Regions from separate parts of the Homo sapiens genome. Here regions 2 and 3 are each linked to region 1. The links come from fine-mapping of genetic effects on gene expression. A gene starts in region 1. Each other region holds a variant in brackets. All regions are shown on one strand. Distances are from middle to middle. Region 1 holds the start of PID1 (phosphotyrosine interaction domain containing 1). Region 2 has its middle 60 kb from the start of PID1. Region 3 overlaps DNER (delta/notch like EGF repeat containing).

The links.
Region 2: its variant is fine-mapped to the expression of PID1 in whole blood (TOPMed, PIP 0.98).
Region 3: its variant is fine-mapped to the expression of PID1 in whole blood (TOPMed, PIP above 0.99).

What each region holds. Positions count from the first base shown.
Region 1 is chr2:229,270,036-229,272,796 of GRCh38, forward strand. It overlaps PID1 (phosphotyrosine interaction domain containing 1), which reads right to left and starts at 1,252. Exons shown (of 3, transcript NM_001100818.2): 1 at 979-1,252. The coding sequence starts at 1,008.
Region 2 is chr2:229,329,879-229,332,639 of GRCh38, forward strand. No RefSeq gene overlaps it. Among named protein-coding and RNA genes, the nearest start is that of PID1, 60 kb to the left of the region's middle. RefSeq lists an enhancer at 750-1,830. The variant C/T (reference allele first, on the strand shown) is at 1,203.
Region 3 is chr2:229,415,008-229,417,768 of GRCh38, forward strand. The region is part of intron 9 of DNER (delta/notch like EGF repeat containing); the gene reads right to left. Among named protein-coding and RNA genes, the nearest start is that of PID1, 150 kb to the left of the region's middle. The variant ATTTTTG/A (reference allele first, on the strand shown) is at 1,304.

The sequences.
Region 1 (2,761 bases):
CCTCCAACCTAGCCAGGGCCTGGCCTCATTGTCCTAAGTCTTCAGATGCACTCAGCCTCCAATGGTGCTGTATTTTACCAGTTAAACACGTCTTCAAAGTTTACTACGAAACAATGTGGCTCCTAGCTTGCCAAAAGTTTAACTGCAGGATTCAGTGGATTTTATCTGGCAGAGTAGCTGCCGTGACTCTTGACAATATTTGCCAGCAAAAGGCAGTCCTCAAACCTTGCAACCAGGGCAATCCCAAGGCCCAACGTGTCACTGAAGGAGTTCTTCTGGGAAAGGTCCCTCTTTCTCTTCAATCGCCTCCCGCAAATCCCCAGCTTCCAGAATCCAATTCAAGGCAGTCTGGCATTTCAGGAGACAGCAGTAAAAAACTTTTGATGGGATAACCCAGGACATAAATATTCCTGGCTGAACCTACTTTTGATTCTTAAATATCTGAAGGAGCTTGGGTTTAAGGAAGATAAAGGGAGAGAACCAATGAATAGGGAAAAATAAAATAAGTAGCATACCATGACCAAGCCAAACCAAGCTTGATATTTCCACATTATATTGGCAAATGGATGCTTTCACATATCACTTGTTCTGTCTTTCCTGGTGACCACAAAAAAAAAAAAAAAAAAAAAAAAATCTGGCTTCAAAAATCCTAACCCCAGACCACTGCATTGTGTCAGTGGAATGCAATCTAAATTGCCAGTCAGAAAGTCCAACCTTATATGTACCAACCAACACGCACACAAGCACCTCCAAGCCAAAAGTTGTAACGCCTGAACCCGTGCGTTTATCAATTTCATCATCCCCATACCCCTGCCGGGTTCCTGGCGCTGGGTAAACCGACAGCATCATGTTGCCATCGATGCGTCTTACAAGATGGTTTTGGGCAAATCCCCTAAAGTAGGCAGAAGCAAAAACTAGGTTCCTCTGCCCGGGCACCTCCTCCTCCAGGCTGGCCCCCGGCTCCCGGGTGCCCCTTACCTGCAGGCGCTCCGTGGCCGGCTGCCACATCTTCCAGCCCTGGGTTTTGGCAGAGGAGACGCTGGCGAGACTGTCGATCGCGCCGGGGGGCGAGGGGCTGGGGTCCCGCTTTACATCTGGGGTCGGTGTCCGCGGGATGTGCGTCCTGGCGCTGGCCACCGCCGCCGGGTGGGCGTAGGGGGCTGCGAGCAGGAGGAGGCGCGGCGCTCAGCTGCCGGCAACTTGTGGGCACGGCCGCGCGCCGGCTGTCCTGGCGCAGCTGCGAGAGGACTGCGCAGCTCCGCCCGGGCCCGGCGAGCGCGCGGCGGCGGCGGGGGCGGCCGCTCCCTCCTCCCCCGCCGCCGCCGCCCGGACCTGCGCGCTCTGAGCATGCCCGGGGCGGGCGCCCAGGGGCCGCGCGGGGCGGGAGTGCAGCGCGGCCGACTCTAAATCCTAGTGAGGGGTGAATGGGGAGGCTAGAACAGCCGGCCCTTCCCTGCAGGAAGCCCCCATTGGGTTGGGGTCTGGGAAAAGGGACAGACTGGCTGAGGGGGGAAGGGCCTGGAGCCGGGGGTGGTGGGGGCAGCGGGGATGTCGGGGGTGGCGGGGGTGGGGGAAATTCCTAAAATAAGGAAACCGTAGCCCCGGGGGTCCCGGGTTTCCATATAACAGGCATCTCTGAAGTGCCTGTGCTGTGCCTGGCGCTGTGCTAGGGAGACACTTCCATTCATTCTTCCCACTCCAGTTAACTGAGCATCTATTAGGCTCCAGCCCCTATGCTGGGTTCTGAGGATGCAGCGACGCAGAATAGAAGACAAGAGAATGTTCCTTCTCTCTGGAGCTTACCTTCTGCTTTGGAGAGAGAGTCGTGACTGAGCAAACACATCAACAAGCCGGTGCTATATCGGGTGGTGATAAAACAGGGCAGATGTGGGAAGAAGGGGAGAGGAGAGCTTCTTAGACAAGGGCCCTGGGGAATGCCTGGAGTAAGACCTGAGAGATGAGAGGGATTGGCCACGAAGAGGCCATGCTTCATGATGGGGAGAGGACTCGACTCCTAACCTATACAGGGGTGAGGAGGGCCATGCAGACTCCCGAATCACTAACTCATCCTGAGATCTGCCAGGTGCAGCAGGAGGCTCTCAGAACCCAAGGGAAAGCCGCTCTGGGCTCGCAGGCCTGGAGGCTCCCCGGCTAGTGCCGGCCACCATGAGATGACTTCCTGTCCTAAACAGGCCAGCCCTTCCCATTCTCTTGACAACTCGGCAAAATAACTATTAATATTTTCACCATGTGGATCAAACAAATGAGGCTTATAAGGTTTAGGTCACTTGTCCAGGTCACACAGCCAGTGAGTGGCTTAGAGAGTGCACAGTCAGATGACTTCAGGGCAGGAGATGTGGCCCTGCGCCTCTAACTGACCATGGAAACCCAGTGGAAAGAGCATCCGTCTAGGGCTGGGGGTTAAAGGCACTTGGCAAGTCAGGGATACTAAGCTGATTCTCGAGCTGATGAAGAGTGGGAGAGGAGAACATGGTGGGAAGAACTCAGGACATAGAATGACCAAAGAGAGGAGCAGAGAGAACACAATGTTTGTGGGGAGCCCTAGGCTCCTACAAGGCAGGGTCCTGAGAGCAGAGGGGTGTGAAAGAGAGGCATTTCATACTGAGACAGCTGCACAGCTTGGGCCGTGAGCTACTCATGCAATGTCAAAATCCACACTCCATGTCTGGAAGGAGGATCTGTCCATTTTCCTTGTTCTGCATGACTACAATGATTTCCAGATATGGAACCACTCCAGAAT
Region 2 (2,761 bases), 60 kb after region 1:
TGAAATACTTTTAAAGATAGGACTAAGTCATATTAGATTTTCAGTCATTTAAGTGGAAAAGCCATGTTCACATATTTTCATTAAATTCAGTTGACCTACATGTGCCTTGTGTGAAGAGCTGATTTTCAGCTGGTAAAGTAGTCACATGAAACTTTTAACAGCCAATGCCAATTCTGACTGGGGGTGATTTATTCCTATTCTTTAGTGTTCATCTCCATACTTTTTTGGGTGTTTTTTTTCTTTTCTTTTTTTTTTTTTTTTGAGACAAAGTCTCATTCTGTTGCCCAGGCTGGAGTGCAGTGGTGCGATCTCAGCTCACTGCAACCACTGTCTCCCAGATTCAAGTGATTCTCCTGCCTCAGCCTCCCAAGTAGCTGGGATTACAGGCACGCACCACTGTGCCTGGCAATTTTTGTATTTTTAGTAGAGATGGGGTTTCACCATGTTGGCCAGGCTTCTCTCAAGCTCCTGATATCAAGTGATTGCCTGCCTTAGCCTCCCAAAGTGCTGAGATTACAGGCGTGAGCCACCGTGCCTCGCCATACTATTATTTTTTAATCCAACTCCAGCTTGTGTGAAAGCTTTTTGTAGAAAAAGGATGAGATCCATATCTGGGTCAGAATGGAGCACAGGAAAGAAAAGCTGTAGAAAGTGAGACACATGGTCTTGTGAGTCTGACCTCTGTTGGGTTCTCAGAGTCAGAAGGAACTGTGAGCCTGTGAGACCCTGGAAGTTGCCAGAAATTTTGGAGAGTCCATTGGCTGTTCCCTAATCATGAGCTAGGGGCCTGGAGTTAATTATTTTTGATGAAGTACATTAAATAAAAATAAGTAAATAAAATATTTCCAGCTGTCCTTTGAAATAAATAAAATGTTTTATTTATTTCAAAGGACAGCAGACAGCTGGCATATGAGCTATGCCTTCATTCACCCCATGAGCTATGAAATCACTCTTTCTTCCTAATGGGTTCTGTGCCTTGTACAGATATCTGTGATTGAATCTGTGAAATACTATAGTCTCTGGACTCAGCAATGAGCTGGAGGTCTAATTAATCTTTATATCCTCAGCACCTCGCATAGGATTTGGCACAGGAAAGTCACTCCGTAAATGCTTGTTGAAGTAACCTTTGGTTCTTAATACAACCAAGACTTCCCATCGTTCATCAAGTCTTGCCCTTATTTAACTGTCATCAGTACCCTGGT[C/T]AGGGTTCATTTCCATGCTTCCCCCTCCTGGCTTCCTCATTTCTTTATTTTTTTCTCTTGCAGATGGTCCTGTGGTTTCACTTCCTATTTGGTTTCTGAACTCTCTGAGCACGAGACTTGGAGACGTGGAGTCCTTTCACTGCAGCTTTCAAAACCTTTCTTAGGGCTGATATGACAATTGCTGGCACTGCGTAATTGCTGTGTGGCTACTTGAAAACTTCTCCACTAGAGACTCACTGAGAGCACCTATTCTGTTGAATGGATTTGGCACAAGGAGGAGGAGAGAAGACAAATGGCCTGGGCTGGTAAGAGACAAAAGTGCCGTGTGTGAGTCTTGGCCCACCTACCTGCTGTGAGACTCTGGGCAAATCACCTGGTCCCTCTCTTCCCACATCTTCTGATGAGCCTTGCTGCCTATTTCCTGAGTAGCTCAGTGGCCACCAGAGACCCCAGGCTCTTTATCAACATTTCAAGATTGTGTAAGTTCTGGCATTTTGTACATTATCAAAAAGAGAAGGCTAAGACCTAAGTCAGGCTAAATTTGATTCAGGAAAACACCTGACGTTTTTGTACTTAAGTATCGAGGGGTAAATCACATCTTTTGCACCTGAATCCGTAAGAACTGTGGCCTAACCCTCTTCTTCTGGAGAACTCACTTTCCTGTCTTTCTGAGACTCCAGCTAGATAGTCCTTTGGCAGATGTTGACCCCATACTACCTTCTCCGTGGGCAACATCTGAGTGCATGGTCTACCTTAGTGAAGGACCTCTCCTTGCCCCTGAAGCACTTCTATCATCCTGGACCTCAACGTGGAATGGTGACCCCTACCTGCCCCACCAGTCACGACCACCTTCTTCCAGCACCTCCAATGTGTCTGCCCTCCAGCACCACCTGCTCCCAACGTAAGACTGCTGGGGTGAGGTTGCAAAACTTGTGTCTCCCTTAAGTATGGCTTCTGTACAGGTTTGTACCCAGTTGTATTTTAATTAAAAGCTTGGCTCTCTAACAATGCAGGTTCTAAAGAGGCCTTAGTTTGCTCCCATTGCCAGTCTTCTTAGAGACTAAATTCAGTCAGCGGGGGAAGGCTTTGCCTCTGCTTAGGATTGGAAGCCTCCATATGCATAATTGCAGAGGGGCAGTAGAGGAGACTAAATGCTTATCTAACCTATGGTTTTTATCAACGGTGGTCGGTTTGTTATTATTTTTAAATGAGTTAGATTCACTTTAAGATGTAAATGGAAAATGGCTCCCAAGTTGTCACAGGCACAGTGCCAAGTATTTCAGACACTTATGAATATCATTAGATAATTATCATATTTGCTGTCAATAGCACTCATTAATCTCGTGTTCAGGGAGAGGAGCCCTTCAGAGCATAATTGCTGCAGTTAGAAACATCTCTATCCCAAGTGCCAAGCAATTCCATGTGACCTTCCCCTATAGACAACCCCATAGTTCTATGTGATGCCATCCTCTGTAGCCACACACCCCACCAAATTCACAGCACCTCTGCCTTTCCCCTAAGTAACTAAGGGTCTCATTCAATTCCATTCAACCAAATGT
Region 3 (2,761 bases), 140 kb after region 1:
CAAAATCAGCTGGGCATGGTGGTGAATGCCTGTAATCCCAGCTACTCAGGAGGCTGAGGCAGGAGAATCGCTTGAACCCAGGAGGTGGAGGTTGGTGTGAGCCGAGATCACACCATTGCACTCCAGCCTGGGCAATGAGAGTGAAACTCCATCACAAAAAAAAAAAGTCCAGGCCTTCCCGGAAGTTCAAGACTGGAAGCAGTGGGGTCTCTGTCATAGTTGCTAGCTTTCAAAGAGCAAGCTGTCACAAATCCTACAGCCACGAGGATATAAGTTCTGCCAATAACCTAAGGGGACTTGGAAGCTGATTTCTCACTATTCAAGCCTCAGATGAGAGCTCAGTCAGTCAATACCTGGCTTTCACCCTTGTGAGCCCCTGAGCTGGGAATTGACTAAGCCACACCTGGACCTAGGAAACTGTTAGGTAATAAAAGCATGTTGTTTAAGCCAGTACCGGGTACTGATTTGTTATGCAGCAATAGATAGCTGATACAGAAGGCGGATCTACTTTTTTCAAGAGACTTTCCTTCACCATTATATTACCATTCACAATCACATAAATATCAAATATTTAGATTTATGCCTGCATTTAAAGGCATACATCTCTTCCTTCCATTCTCCATCTTCCCCTATCTGGATATCTTTGTTTTGATTTAGTTCCTATTTGGTGGCGATGCTTATTAAGGTACTTATCTTAGGGTATAGGGTGCTATATTTTCTGTATCCTTGAATGTATGGCAATGTCTTTCTTTTGCCCTCAAATATAAACAACAAACTCCTAGTCCTTTTCATTTAAAAGTCTGAAACGCTGCTCTGCTATTCTTTACCTCATGATAGAGAGGGGCAGTACAATGCCGATTTGATTCTCTTTCTTCTGTATGTAACCTGTGATCCCTTCGAAGAATCTTGTAAAAAATTCTCTTTATCCTTGCAGTTACAAATTTTACCAGGAAATCTCAAATTGTGTATCATCTCCTTCATTAATCCCATTACTGCCCTGTGAGCCCATTCTATTTGAAAATAAGACTTTCTTCACCTCACAGACACCTCCTTCTAGGAGTTAGTTAATTCTGCTTCTATTTCCACATGCTCCTTCTTCTGGAGCACCCATCGCTCAGGCAGAAGCAGATCTCTCAAATCTTTTCTCCATGTTTCCTGTCTTTTCACTCGTGGTTTCCACTTCCTCATATTTTGATTCTCTCATGCACTAGTTCCTCCTTTTTATTCAGATCCAAATTCAATTTTGAGTAGTGTACATTACTTTCTTCACTTCCTTTCTTGAGTGTTTAGAGCTGTTGTTGCA[ATTTTTG/A]TTTTTATTTCCCAAAACTTTTCTCCCTCTCTGAGTTGCTGGCGTGGGCTAGTGTACTGGCCAGGCTAGTGGGTGGAAATCTTGGCAGAGACAGACAACATAACACATTCCCCTTCAGGGATGGATGGGCAGCCAATGGGGCCCTGTGTACTAAGGCATGAGGCAGAGAGAGGCCTCCCAGTTTGGTGTTCTCAAGGCCACAAAAAATGGGGGGGCCAGCTCAGCCTACTGTGCAATTTCCTTAGACAGCAGCCCGTAGCCATGAGATCAGTACACCCCTCTGCCTCCTAGGGTCAGACGCAGCACAATTACAGCATGCACTTCCTCTCTATAAGCTGAAGGATTTTTTTGGACTAATCTGTTCATTGAGTCATCAGTTCTCTCTGGAGCCCTCATCCCCTGTTCTTGTGGTTAAGCAAAGGCTCCCAGCACACATACCCTTTCTTGAGACCCCAAATCTTCAGATGACCCCATTCAGGGTCATCTACCTTATTGAGCCATCCCTAGCAGAGAGTCAGGAGGGATCAGAGATATTGAATGTCAATGTGAGCTGCCATCTTCCTAGAATCTTCATTTGTTCAGAGTAAGAAATCCATGAAAATATTTATACACATGGAAAGGAGCAAGGGGAAAGAAGGAGGTTGAAGATATGTAGAGAGAAAGGTAATAGATAGATAGACTCAGAACTGAGAAGCCTGAGAATGAAGCCAGCACATCTGCTGTTGTGTCCTGGTAGATGTTAGTGGAGTTTGGTTCTAACCGAACGTCATACTCCAACAGAAGCATCAGATCTGTGGAACACAAAGTCAAGACCTGGCCCAGCTTCAGCCCTCTTATCCAGGAGCTTAATCAAGTTTTCAGTGTAGCCTACAAGGCCATGAGACTTGCCAAAAAGGTTACTAAATAAAGGTAGGTTCATCCAAAGAGAAGCAACGGTGAGGGCAATGCAAGGTCTCCAGCCAGGTGGATGGCATCAAGCAAGCAGCAATAGGAGCAAGCGGTTGAATGAAATGGCTATAAATAGAGCCCACAAACGCATTCCAAAATCTAAACCCGGCCCCGTAGTTATGGCTTAGAGAAATGTGTGCAACAGCTGATAAATAGGTTCTCCTGGAACAGGGCCGTCTGAGGATATCTGGGCTCCAGGAAGCCTTGCCATCCACAAAACGTGGCCAGAGGCCAGTGAAGATGCTGGGAAAGGGCTTTAGGAACCACGCTGACCAGGCTTATAGGGGAAGAGCATTACTGTCCACCTCATAGGGTTCTCGGGGGGATTTAGTGAGCTATGCACATTAGGGGTTAGAACGGGGTCCACACATTGGAAACACTCTGTCAATGTCGCCTGTTTTTAATAAGCATTAACTTACTTGCTGATACATGGGACTCCGCCTGCCTCCTCCCCAAGAAAGCACAGCATTCTATCTCTGCATAAGAAGCTTTATAGGACGGCAT